3 linked regions of the Homo sapiens genome follow. The protein of the gene in region 1 purifies or fractionates together with the protein of each later gene. This does not show direct contact. Each region holds a gene or a part of one and is shown in the gene's direction. Other genes may lie near its edges. The genes, in order: FBXL16, SKP1 and FBXL18.

What was found.
Region 2: the proteins of FBXL16 (region 1) and SKP1 purify together in Homo sapiens (affinity purification with western blotting; 5 studies listed by BioGRID and IntAct, with this or other methods). This does not show direct contact.
Region 3: the proteins of FBXL16 (region 1) and FBXL18 purify together in Homo sapiens (affinity purification with mass spectrometry; 2 studies listed by BioGRID and IntAct, with this or other methods). This does not show direct contact.

Annotation. Positions count from the first base shown.
Region 1 is NC_000016.10:692,188-695,933, reverse strand, and holds the end of FBXL16 (F-box/LRR-repeat protein 16), read left to right. Parts: intron 1-10; coding exon 11-519; intron 520-857; coding exon 858-942; intron 943-1,236; coding exon 1,237-1,300; intron 1,301-1,510; coding exon 1,511-1,659; 3' UTR 1,660-3,434; downstream 3,435-3,746. UniProt on the Homo sapiens protein: Substrate-recognition component of the SCF (SKP1-CUL1-F-box protein)-type E3 ubiquitin ligase complex.
Region 2 is NC_000005.10:134,149,231-134,152,976, reverse strand, and holds part of SKP1 (S-phase kinase-associated protein 1), read left to right. Parts: 3' UTR 1-3,746. UniProt on the Homo sapiens protein: Essential component of the SCF (SKP1-CUL1-F-box protein) ubiquitin ligase complex, which mediates the ubiquitination of proteins involved in cell cycle progression, signal transduction and transcription.
Region 3 is NC_000007.14:5,507,194-5,510,939, reverse strand, and holds part of FBXL18 (F-box/LRR-repeat protein 18), read left to right. Parts: intron 1-3,746. UniProt on the Homo sapiens protein: Substrate-recognition component of the SCF (SKP1-CUL1-F-box protein)-type E3 ubiquitin ligase complex.

The DNA of each region.
Region 1 (3,746 bases):
CCGCCTGCAGGTTATGCTTGAACAGATGCAGGGCGTGGTGCGTCTGGAGCTGTCGGGCTGCAACGACTTCACCGAGGCCGGGCTGTGGTCCAGCCTGAGCGCGCGCATCACCTCGCTGAGCGTGAGTGACTGCATCAACGTGGCCGACGACGCCATCGCGGCCATCTCGCAGCTGCTGCCCAACCTGGCGGAGCTGAGCCTGCAGGCCTACCACGTGACGGACACGGCGCTGGCCTACTTCACGGCGCGCCAGGGCCACAGCACGCACACGCTGCGCCTGCTCTCCTGCTGGGAGATCACCAACCACGGCGTGGTCAACGTGGTGCACAGCCTGCCCAACCTCACCGCGCTCAGCCTCTCGGGCTGCTCCAAGGTCACCGACGACGGCGTGGAGCTCGTGGCCGAGAACCTGCGCAAGCTGCGCAGCCTTGACCTCTCGTGGTGCCCACGCATCACCGACATGGCGCTGGAGTACGTGGCCTGCGACCTGCACCGCCTAGAGGAGCTCGTGCTCGACAGGTGCGCGCCCCCGGGCCGCGCCGGGCGGGGCTGGGCCGGGCGGGGCTGCACGGGGCGGGGCGGGGCGGGGCTGCACGGGGCCGGGGGCGGGGGCTTCCGGCGGGGCTGGGGCTGTGGCGCGGCGGGCAGAGCCCTCGGAGCCTGGGGAGTGGGAACCGCAGAACCGCAGCACGGGTTGGCTGGACCCCCGTCCTTCCCGGTGGGTGGGAGCGAGGAGGGGCCAGCGGCTGCTCCGGGTGGGGCAGGAAGGGATTCACGCCAGGGGCACTCCCAGGAAGACGAGGGATGGCCGGGGCCAGGTGATTTGAAGGTGGGGGTCCCCTCTGGTGCAACCACAGGTGTGTACGCATCACGGACACTGGCCTCAGCTATCTGTCCACCATGTCGTCCCTCCGCAGCCTCTACCTGCGATGGTGCTGCCAGGTACCGGCTCTCACGCCCCGGGATTGGGGGATCGGCGGGGAGGTGGGGGCGCGGGGAGAGCTCCCGGCCCCACTCAGATCCTGGGAGAGTCTGGGGCCCCTCCCTATCCAGCAGCCGACCTAAGCGGAACGCAGGGGTCCCGGCGGCCCCCACGAGCACTTCCCAGCCGCCTCCCGGCTCCGGGGGGGACGGAGGAACCCCGGGCTTGAACCCGCCTAGCCCTCCATGGACCCCAGGGTGCCCTCCGCCTCGGTGCGAGCGGAAATCGTTAAGTCGCTCCTCCACTCCCGACAGGTGCAAGACTTCGGGCTGAAGCACCTCCTGGCCCTGGGGAGTTTGCGCCTCCTGTCTCTGGCAGGTGAGACCCCCGTTTCTGCTCTGACGCTGGCAGTGACCACCCACCCCCACTTAGTCCACCCGCCCAACCTGCCCGGTCCTTGTGCAAACTCACACCCGGCGCGGACACACAGTCCCGGGTCCGAGGCGGAGGAGGAGGGAGGCGCGGCCCGGCCGTCCCCGCCCGAGCCCTGGGCCGCGCGCACTGAGCCGCCCTCTGACCCCGCCGCAGGCTGCCCGCTGCTCACCACCACCGGGCTGTCGGGCCTGGTGCAGCTGCAGGAGCTGGAGGAGCTGGAGCTGACCAACTGCCCCGGGGCCACCCCCGAGCTCTTCAAGTATTTCTCGCAGCACCTGCCCCGCTGCCTCGTCATTGAGTAGCGCGAGGCCCCCGCCCCGGTCGCGGGAACCCGGCCATGACCTGGGCGGGGGCGCGGGGCGCCGCCGAGCCCCCTCTTCCCGCCTTGCGCTCGGGGGAGCCCCCGCGCCCCCGGCCCAGCGCGGGAGGCGGGGCGAGCCGAGGGAAAGCCCCTCCCCGACCTTCGGTCCCTCCGCCCTCCCAGCCCCGCCCCGGGCAGGGGGGCGGCGGGTGGGCCCGCCCCACGCACGCACGCACACTCGGGGACTTTGTGCATGCCCCTCGTGCCCGCACTGCACGCCGCCCTCCGCCACGCCACAGCCACAGCCGCCGCCATCACTCGCTCGCCCTCCCGCTTGGGGGGCGGGGCTCGGTCCTTGGGGGGGCTTTGAGCTCTCCAGACTGTGCCCTTACCGCCTTCCCCGCCACACCCGCTCTGTCTTCCCACTGTCCCCCCCATCCCGGGCAGGGCCCAGTGGGATTGAGGGGGCTGGGTCCCCCAGGACACGGGCCCAGAAGAGCCCCACGGGCTTCCTGCATCTTCCACCGCACCATACCTGGAGCCCTCCGAGGGGTGTCAGGGGAAACAGGCCACCGCCAAAGCCATGGCCCGCCGCCGAGAGCCCAGGCCCCACCCGCACCTCCTCACCCATCCAGCCTGACCCACGCGGCCTCTCCTCCTCCTTGCCGCTGTGTGGGGCAGTCCCCTGTCCGCCCCAAAACCCGGCCTTGGTCCCTGGCCAGGCTGAGAGAATTGGGCAGGGAGAGGGCGGAAGGGCTGGCGATCGCTTGGAGTCATTAACGTGATCCCAGCTGACTCCGGTCGGCCTCAACCCAGGGGTGGCGCAGGCACCTTGCAAGCCTCGAGCTGTAGCCACCCTCAGGCCTGGGAAGAGGCCTGGGCCGACCTCACACCTCAGCCCTTGCACCCGGCCGGGCTCAGTTCAGGCCTGGGCACCGAGCTTCACCCTGGGTGGGTCTCCTCAGGTGGAGTCTGCAGAGTGGACCCAGCCAAGGGTCAGGGTCAGCACTGGGTCAGCGACTCCAATCTTCCAGTGGCCAGCACACCCTAGACACCCCGAGGAGGGAGGGCTCCTTTCTAGCCTGCCCCCCCACCCCCACTTCACCCCTCCCCAGCTTCCCAAACTTCTGTCTGCCCAAATGGGCTCTGACCGTGCTCTGTCGGCCCGAGACATTTGGAAGTCCTGGGGGATGCTGGCAAATCTCAGCTGTTGCTGAGGAGGGGGCTGGGACCCCTTCCCATCCCAACCTTGAGCCCCAGGAGATACCGCGCCCACACCCAATCTTGGGACACTCCCTATCTGGTTGGAAGAGAGTAACCAGTTTCCAGAGAGCCAGAGAGTGAGAGAGAGAAAGAGAGTGAGAGAGAGAGAGAAAGAGAGAGAGAGATGCTGTTGAATCAGAAACAGATCAACAGCCCAAAGATTTTCCTGTCCCTGGAGTGCCAGCCCCAGGAAGCTCCAGGGCTGAGTGGTCAGGAGCCAGTTTCTCCAGCCCCTCCTCCCCACAACCCCTAGTGGGGAGGGGCAGCTGTCCATTTGCCCAAAGTATTAATGCAACTGAAGCTGTGATATTTCCAACGACTGTAGGAGGAAAAATTAAGGGGAGAGAGGAAAACAAAACCAACCAACCCCTAAAATCATTTTCTTATTGTACATAACGACCTCATTCTCCTGTATATGCGGAAGATATAACCTTATATTTGGTAAGTGTTTCTTGTGCTATTTTATCACGTGACCTGTTTATAAAAATATATATTAAAAAAGTTGTAAAAACATGTGTCTGAGTTGTTTTTAGGTCCCCAGACAGCGGTGTAGGTGGGCATATCTGCCCTGCGCATCCCAGGTCTCGGGATTCTCCTGTACCTCTTATCAGATTTATTCTTTCTTGCAACAAAGGGGTAGAGGCTGGATGCCGACATGGTAGAATGGAAACAGCAGTGACTACATGGAAGGCAGAGGACCTCCCATTCCTTAAAGGGAGAGACAACACTGAAGTCACTACACATAATATTCCCTCCAACATATCCAGACTCTAGCCCACCCTTCCAGAGAGGCAGAAATAAACCCTGTTCTATACACAGTAACAG
Region 2 (3,746 bases), on another chromosome or scaffold:
TAGCTCCTGGCTTCTCCTTGGTAGGAAGCATTAGACATGGTTTCCCTCTAGGGAGCTGGGAGCTTTTGGTGTAGTTCAGGAGAGAAGGCATAAATACTGCTGGGAGGGAGTGGATAACTCTAATAAAAATGTTCCTGGGCTGGGCACGGTGGCTCACGCCTGTAATCCCAACATTTTCAGAGGCTGAGGTGTGCAGATCACGAGGTCAAGAGATCGAGACCATCCTGGCCAACATGGTGAAACCTCATCTCTACTAAAAATACAAAAATTAGCTGGGCGTGGTGGCACATGCCTGTAGTCCCAGCAACTCGGGAGGCTGAGGCAGGAGAACCGCTTGAACCCGGGAGGCGGAAGTTGCAGTGAGCCGACATCACGCCACTGACTGCAGTCCAGCCTGGCGACAGAGCGAGACTCCGTTTCAAAAAAAAAAAGTTTCTGGACAGAACAGATTAATGAGCCAATGGGGGGCTACAGAGCTGAAAGGTGCTACGAAAGGTTTTGTAAAGTGAAACTAATTTGGTTTCAAGAATCAAGTTGGATTTGTTTGGGGGTGGACAGATGCCAAAGTGAGGAAAAAGCAGTGCACAGTCAGGAACTAACAGCAGAAGGTTGGGTGTTGGTACATTTCCCTGAGAATATAGACTAAAGAGAAATTAGGGCAGGATTAGTCACAGTACTTTGCTGACACTCAGTAGTATTTTATCAGCATTTATTCATCAGACCCACATTAGGCAGGGCAATTTTTGAGTGAGCTAAATTCTAATTTTTTTAATTTTAATTTTTATTTATTTATTTTTTGGCTGTTCAACTAAACCAGTCTTTTGAATGTTGGGGGTTTTACAGTTAGAGTCCTGATGACTTTTTCTTGTTTACTGTTGTTAAAAATCACTACCTCCAGTGGTCACAGAGAATGAGTAAGAGAACTGGCTGTGCATATCAAGATGAAGTATGGTGTAAGAAATATTTCAGAGCATGTCCTTTGGCCCAAGATTGAGCCATTTGGACACCTAAGCAGGATTGGCTGAATGTTATCCTTTCTGCTGAGGCATCAGTGGAGATGATCATTAGTGGTGGCCGAAAAGTGTTGTCGAAGGTGCTCTTGCTTGACACACTTCCAATGCGGGACATAGTTTGAGTGATAGATGGCTAATTCATTGATAATGTACTTGTTGCCTTGCAGTCTTGTGTACTGCTGGCTACCTCTGGTCTGTGTGCCAGTATTGAGCAGCATTCTATGGGAGGAATGTAGTTGCTCATAACAGTGTCTGCTTCCACATCTGTAGTTCTTGCGACCTTCTGATATCTGTCAACTTTAAATTTTCTGGAAGTATTTAAGTATATTCAGACCTTCTGATATCTCTTAACTTCAAATTTTCAACCTGCTATATAGCAGCCTCTTATTGCACACTGAGGATCAGCTTATTTCCTTAAAGTGCTCTCACTTTGAATACCTCCCACCTATCTGGTGAAAATTCTTATTTGTCCTTTCTTTCCTGAATGTACCATTTCACAACCTCTAACTGCCTTCTTCAGTTGCTTTGCAGATTTTTCTGTTCCAGGAAGCTTACGGAAAGGGGTGGGAAAATAGAGAAGCTGTACTCTATCCTCAAGTACTCAAGCAGGGTTTCCAGAGTGGCTTTGTAAAAATTTTTATTTATTTATTTATTTATTTTTGGTGAGTGGAACCTGGCTTTTCCTCTTCCCTCCCCAAGCCCCACCCCGCTTCCTGACATTGCACATGCCTGAAAGAACTAGGCTTCAGATAAAAGAATGAGAACACTTGAATGAAAAAGGAAGACTTGGTCCAGAGCCCCTGGTGAATATGAAAGAAGTATTGGCCTGGACTATCTCCCGCATAATTCACAGCTGCTATCTTGTCTTCAGAAGTGAAACATCCCTTACCAATAGTGACCTAACTTGTGAGGACTGCTTGTGATAGTATAGTTCCCACCCCCAGGACATAAGTTTTCCCTTTCCAGTTAACATGCCTAATCCCATGCTATCTTTAAGAGCTTGAAAATCCTTCCTGACCTGAGCTAGGCTTTTATTCTAAGGGACTGTGTATGTGAACATCCCCACCATCTATGTTTCCTGTTTTCAAACTCGGTGCCGTTTTGAGTATTTTCAGATGCTCACTGCCAGTAATGGTTTGTTAGTAGCTCCAAACTATTAGAGAAGAGCTCAGGAGTCAGAATTTGAAAGATGCCCATAGGGTGATTTGAGATTTGGAACAAGGTTATCACAATAAGTTGGGATTGGGGGAGTTGACACAACCAGGGTCTGCTTGGGTGGGCAGCTGTTTCAGAAACCCTTGGTGAACTCTTAAAGCCCTGAAGAGCTTAAAAAATGCTCTGAAGAGATCTGAGAGTCGCAGTTAAGGACTCTCAAAGAACCTCAAAGAAAAGCCAACTTAGCCTTTTTATACAATTAACTAGATTTGGGTCTTAAATTCTACTTTGACATATAGGCCTAAGAGGTAGTTTAACATGGCCTTGTTACCCTTACCCCTTCTGTTCTGTGCTGTTTTCTGAGAAACGGATGCAGGAACTGATTCCCTTTCTTCCTCTCTGGAACAGGATATAAAGAACCCTTCCGCTTCCCTTTACTTGTGGCCTTCCTGGCCAGGCTTATGTATACTGAACAAAGCTAGGGTGCAGTGCTTCTGAGCTAGCTGTTAGGGGTCCACAGCCAGAAGGAATGGGAGACCACAGGAGCCATTCAAAAGATAATTACATGTCAGAAGAGAGTCCATCCATGGGGTTCTGTTAAAGTAGACACCTTCACGTTGGGAGACATAGGCTTTGTCTGCTTGCTGGGCTGAACCCTCACCATATCCACAGAGAACAAAATGGGGAGCAGCTGTACCAGGGGAGGGATGAACGTCTTTCACCCAAGTTGCCAGTCTGCTAGTTGTCTGGAAATGTTCAAGGGAGGCTAAGGTATCTTGTCTTATGATGTCTCAGGAAACAGGGTTGGTTCTCAGCTGGCAGTGAAGGGGGACTGGTGTGGTATTAGCAGTTGAACTTGAGGTTGCAATCTCAAGTCACCCTCTGGCCTCGCAGGAATGCACCAGGGTGATTTGGGAGGATCTGAGTTTCCTTTATGAAGTCAGATTAAAAAAAAAAAAAGCTGATCTGATTTAAACAGAGTTGCCAAAGACTTCCCCGCCAATACACAAAGACTGCATTGTTCAGGTACCCTGTGTACTCTAAGTGAGACACCAAATCAGATGCAGCAACCTGGTCTTGCATAAGCCCTGGTTAGAATGTAGGTTTTTTAAACAACTAGGCCAGTAGCCAGAACAGAATTCTTTAAAATGGGACAGATGTCCAGAGAATGGCTAGTGTCCTCTAGCACTCTCTCAGAAGCAAAAGCAAGTCTGGGGTTACAACTTCCAGTGGCCTACTTTAAATAGACGCTGTTCTGGAAAATGACTTTATACTTTAAACACAAAATCCAAAAAATAGAACTCAGTGGAGTGACAATGACAATGCATGATGGTGGCCCAGTGGCTGTCCCATGTGAAATACTTCTTGCCTGACATGTATCATCTACTTGTTGACTGACCTATTGAGGTGCCTTCATGACACCTTTTACATTCATGATAGGTCTCAGGAAGACAGCAGTGTACTTGGTGGAAACTCATGTAAAAAGTGGGTTGTAGGGAGCTAAACAGTGAGTACACATGGTATATGGATACGGAATGGAATAATAGACATTGGAGACTTCAAAAGGTGGGAGATGAA
Region 3 (3,746 bases), on another chromosome or scaffold:
GTTGTCATTATAGCCGGTGGTTCCTAGTGTGCCTGGTAAGCACATTCCAGGGCCTGCCACTCACACCAGAATTGGAATTTCAGGAGACCCCAGGAATGAGGTGCCTGGTTGGGACCTGTCTGGAAGCCTCAGCTGCCCTTTCCTGGTGGTGGAGGGAAGGGAGGTTCTGGGCTTAGGAGTCCAGGCCCTGTGGGAGGCATTACTTGGCCTTTGACCTCCAGCCAGTTACCTAGATTTTTTTTTTTTTTTTTTTGGAGACAGGATCTCACTCTGTTGCCCAGGCTGGAGTGCAGTGGCGCGATCATGGCTCACTGAAGCCACCACTTCCCGGGTTCAGGTGATCCTCCCACTTCTGCCTCTTGAATAGCTGGGACTGACTATAGGCACGTGCCACCATGCCTGGCTAATTTTTGTATTTTTAGTGGAAACGGGGTTTCACCGTGTTGGTCAGGCTGGTCTCGAACTCCTGACCTCGTGATCTGCCTGCTTTGGCCTCCCAAAGTGCTGGGATTACAGGCGTGAGCCACCGTGCCTGGCTCAACTAATTTTTTAATTTTTTTGTAGAGACGAGGTTTTGCCACATTGCCCAGGCTGCAACTTGGGTTTTTTTTTCTTTTCTTTTTTTTTTTTTTTTTTTGAGACAGAGTCTTACTCTTTCGCCCAGGCTGGAGTGCAGTGGTGCGATCTTGGCTCACTGCAACCTCCACCTCCTCGGTTCAAGCAATTCTCCTTGCCTCAGCCTCCTGAGTAGATGGCATTACAGGCGCCTGCCACCACGCCCAGCTAATTTTTGTATTTTTAGTCGAGATGGGGTTTCACCATGTTGGCCAGGCTAGTCTCGAACTCCTGACGTCAAGTGATCTGCCTGCCTCAGCCTCCCAAAGTGCTGGAATTACACGCATGAGCTACCGCGCCCTTCCTGCACCCTGGTTTTTGTTTCCTCTCCAGAGCTTGCCACCTTTTTTGGTGCAAGGTGCCTTAACTTAACAAAGTTGTCTCCGGAAGCTAAGTTCCAGGGAAATGACTCAACTCGCCCGCCCAGCAGCTGCCTCCTAGGGTCCTCTGGCCGGAGATGGAGAGTGGGGGTGGGGGCCCATTCGAGCTGCTTCCTGGGCCAGTTTCTCGTCTTGTCTGGGCATCACCCCTCAGATACCTGCCCCACCAGGTTGGGTGCTGGCCCCACAATTGCATCAGGGGTCTGGCCTGAGATGAAACTTCTCTTTTTTTTTTTTTTTTTTGAGATGGAATCTCACTCTGTCACCCAGGCTGGAGTGCAGTGGCACAATCTGAGCTCACTGCAAACTCCACCTCCCAGGTTCAAGCGATTCTTCTGCCTCAGCCCCCCGAGTTGCTGGATAGTTGCTGTGGACAGTAGCCCACCACCACGCCTGGCTAATTTTTGTGTTTTTAGTAGACATGGGGTTTCACCATATTGGCCAGGCTGGTCTCGAACTCCTGACCTCGTGATCCACCCGCTTTGGCCTCCCAAAGTGCTGGGGATTACGGGCGTGAGCCACCGCGCCTGTCCAAAATTTCTGTTTTATTTGGAGCACAGCATGTGGAAAAAATGATGTTGTGGAATTTGCTGTGGCTGGATGGAGAGAGCTGGAACTTAATTCCTGGCCTGCTGTCTCTCCCTCTCTTTTTAAAAAAAATTATTGTAATTTCTATGAGGTTTTAAGAAAAATTCAGTGTGGTCGTGTAACTGTGGAATCTATATGATGCTGGATTTTTTTTTTTTTTTTTTGAGACAGAGTCTCACTCTGTCACCCAGGCTGGAGTGCAGTGGTGCGATCTCGGCTCACTGCAACCTTCACCTCCCGGGTTCAAGCGATTCTTCTGCCTCAGCCTCCTGAGTAGCTGGGACTATAGGCGTGTGCCACCACACCCGGCTAAGTTTTGTATTTTTAGTGGAGATGGGGTTTCATCATGTTGCCGAGGCCTGTCTCAAACTCCTGACCTCAGGTGATCCACCCATCTCAGCCTCTGAATGTGCTGGTTTTACAGGCGTGAGCACAGCATTACAGCGTCTGGCCCAGTGCTGGAGTTTTTAATAGTGTTTTGCCCTAAGTTCTCATTCTTACCACGTGAGCTCTGTGATGGCATTCTTTCATAAATCTGCAAACTGGGAATTGGGAGGGGTACAGTTCATTCCTTGATAAGGACTGTCCCTGGTTCTGATAAAGATTGTCTCTGATTCTGATCAAGTTTGTCTCTGGTTCTGATAAAGGTTGTCCCTGATTTGGGAGTCTGTCTTTTGGGATTGGGCCCCACAAGTCTGGGGTGGGTTCCAGGAATCTGATTTTTATTTATTTATCTTTTTTTTTTTTTGAGACAAGGTCTCTCTCTGTCATCCAGGCTGGAGTGCAGTGGCAAGATCCTAGCTCACTGCAGCCTCAACCTCCTGAGCTGAAGCGATCCTCCCACCTCAGCCTCTTGAGTAGCTGGGACAACAGGCACATGCCACTGTGTCCCACTAATTTTTTTTTTTTTTTTTTTAGACAAAGTCTCGCTCTGTTGCCCAGGCTGGATGCAATGGTGCGATCTCGGCTTACCGCAACCTCTGCCTCCTGGGTTCAAGTAATTCTGCTCAGCCTCCTGAGTAGCTGGGATTACAGGTGCCCGCCACCAGGCCCAGATAATTTTTGTATTTTTTTCTTTCTTTTTTTTTTTTTGAGATGGAGTCTTGCTCTGTCACCAGGCTGGAGTGCAGTGGCGCGATCTCAGCTCACTGCAACCTCCACATCCCGGTTTCAAGTGATTCTTCTGCCTTGGCCTCCCGAGTAGCTGGGACTATAGGCATATGCCACCACGCCTGGCTAGTTTTTGTATTTTTAGTAGAGATGGGGTTTCACTATGTTGGCCAGGCTAGTCTCGAGAACTGACTTCGTGATCCGCCTGCCTTGGCCTCCCAAAGTGCTGGGATTACAGGCGTGAGCCACCACGTCTGGCCTAATTTTTGTATTTTTAGTAGAGACAGGGTTTCACCATGTTGGCCAGGCTGGTCTCGAGAACTGACCTCGTGATCTGCCCTCCTCAGCCTCCCAAAATGCTGGGATTACAGGTGTGAGCCACTGTGCCCAGCCTGTCTTGCTAATTTTCTTTTGAGACAGTGTCTTGCTCTGTTGCCCAGGCTGGAGTGCAGTGGTGTGATCTTGGCTCCCTGCAATCTCTGCCTCCGGGGTTCAAGCGATTCTCCTGCCTCAGCCTCCTGAGTAGCTGGGACTACAAGCGCCTGCCACCATGCCCCGGTAATTTTTGTATTTTTAGTAGAGACGGGGTTTCACCATGTTGGCCAGGCTGGTCTCGATCTCTTGACCTTGTGATTTCCCCGCCTCGGCCTCCCAAACTGCTGGGATTACAGGTGTGGGTCACCATGCCCGGCCTTGTTCTGCTAATTATTAAAATATTAGGAGGGAAGGTAGAAGTAAGTGTCTAACCTCTGACCCTCATGAGCCTCATGGGTCCTTACGGGCCATGTCCTTTGGTTTCCGTGTGGCTTTCTCTTTTGGAGGATGGAGGGTACTTCTTTGTTCCCAGGGAAGAAAGGTGGGACACATTCCAGCACACCTGTCTAGGGCCTGGCGAGGGCTTAGCAGGATGGGAATCCTGTCTGGAGAGGGTGAAAGGACTGTCGCAGTCAGAGTTCCCAGGAAACCTCCGATACCCGTGTGGGGTGTGCAGATAGGCTCTTCCTCCATGGCCTTCACGGTTGCCATGGTAGCAGCCTGGCTTTGCAAAACTCA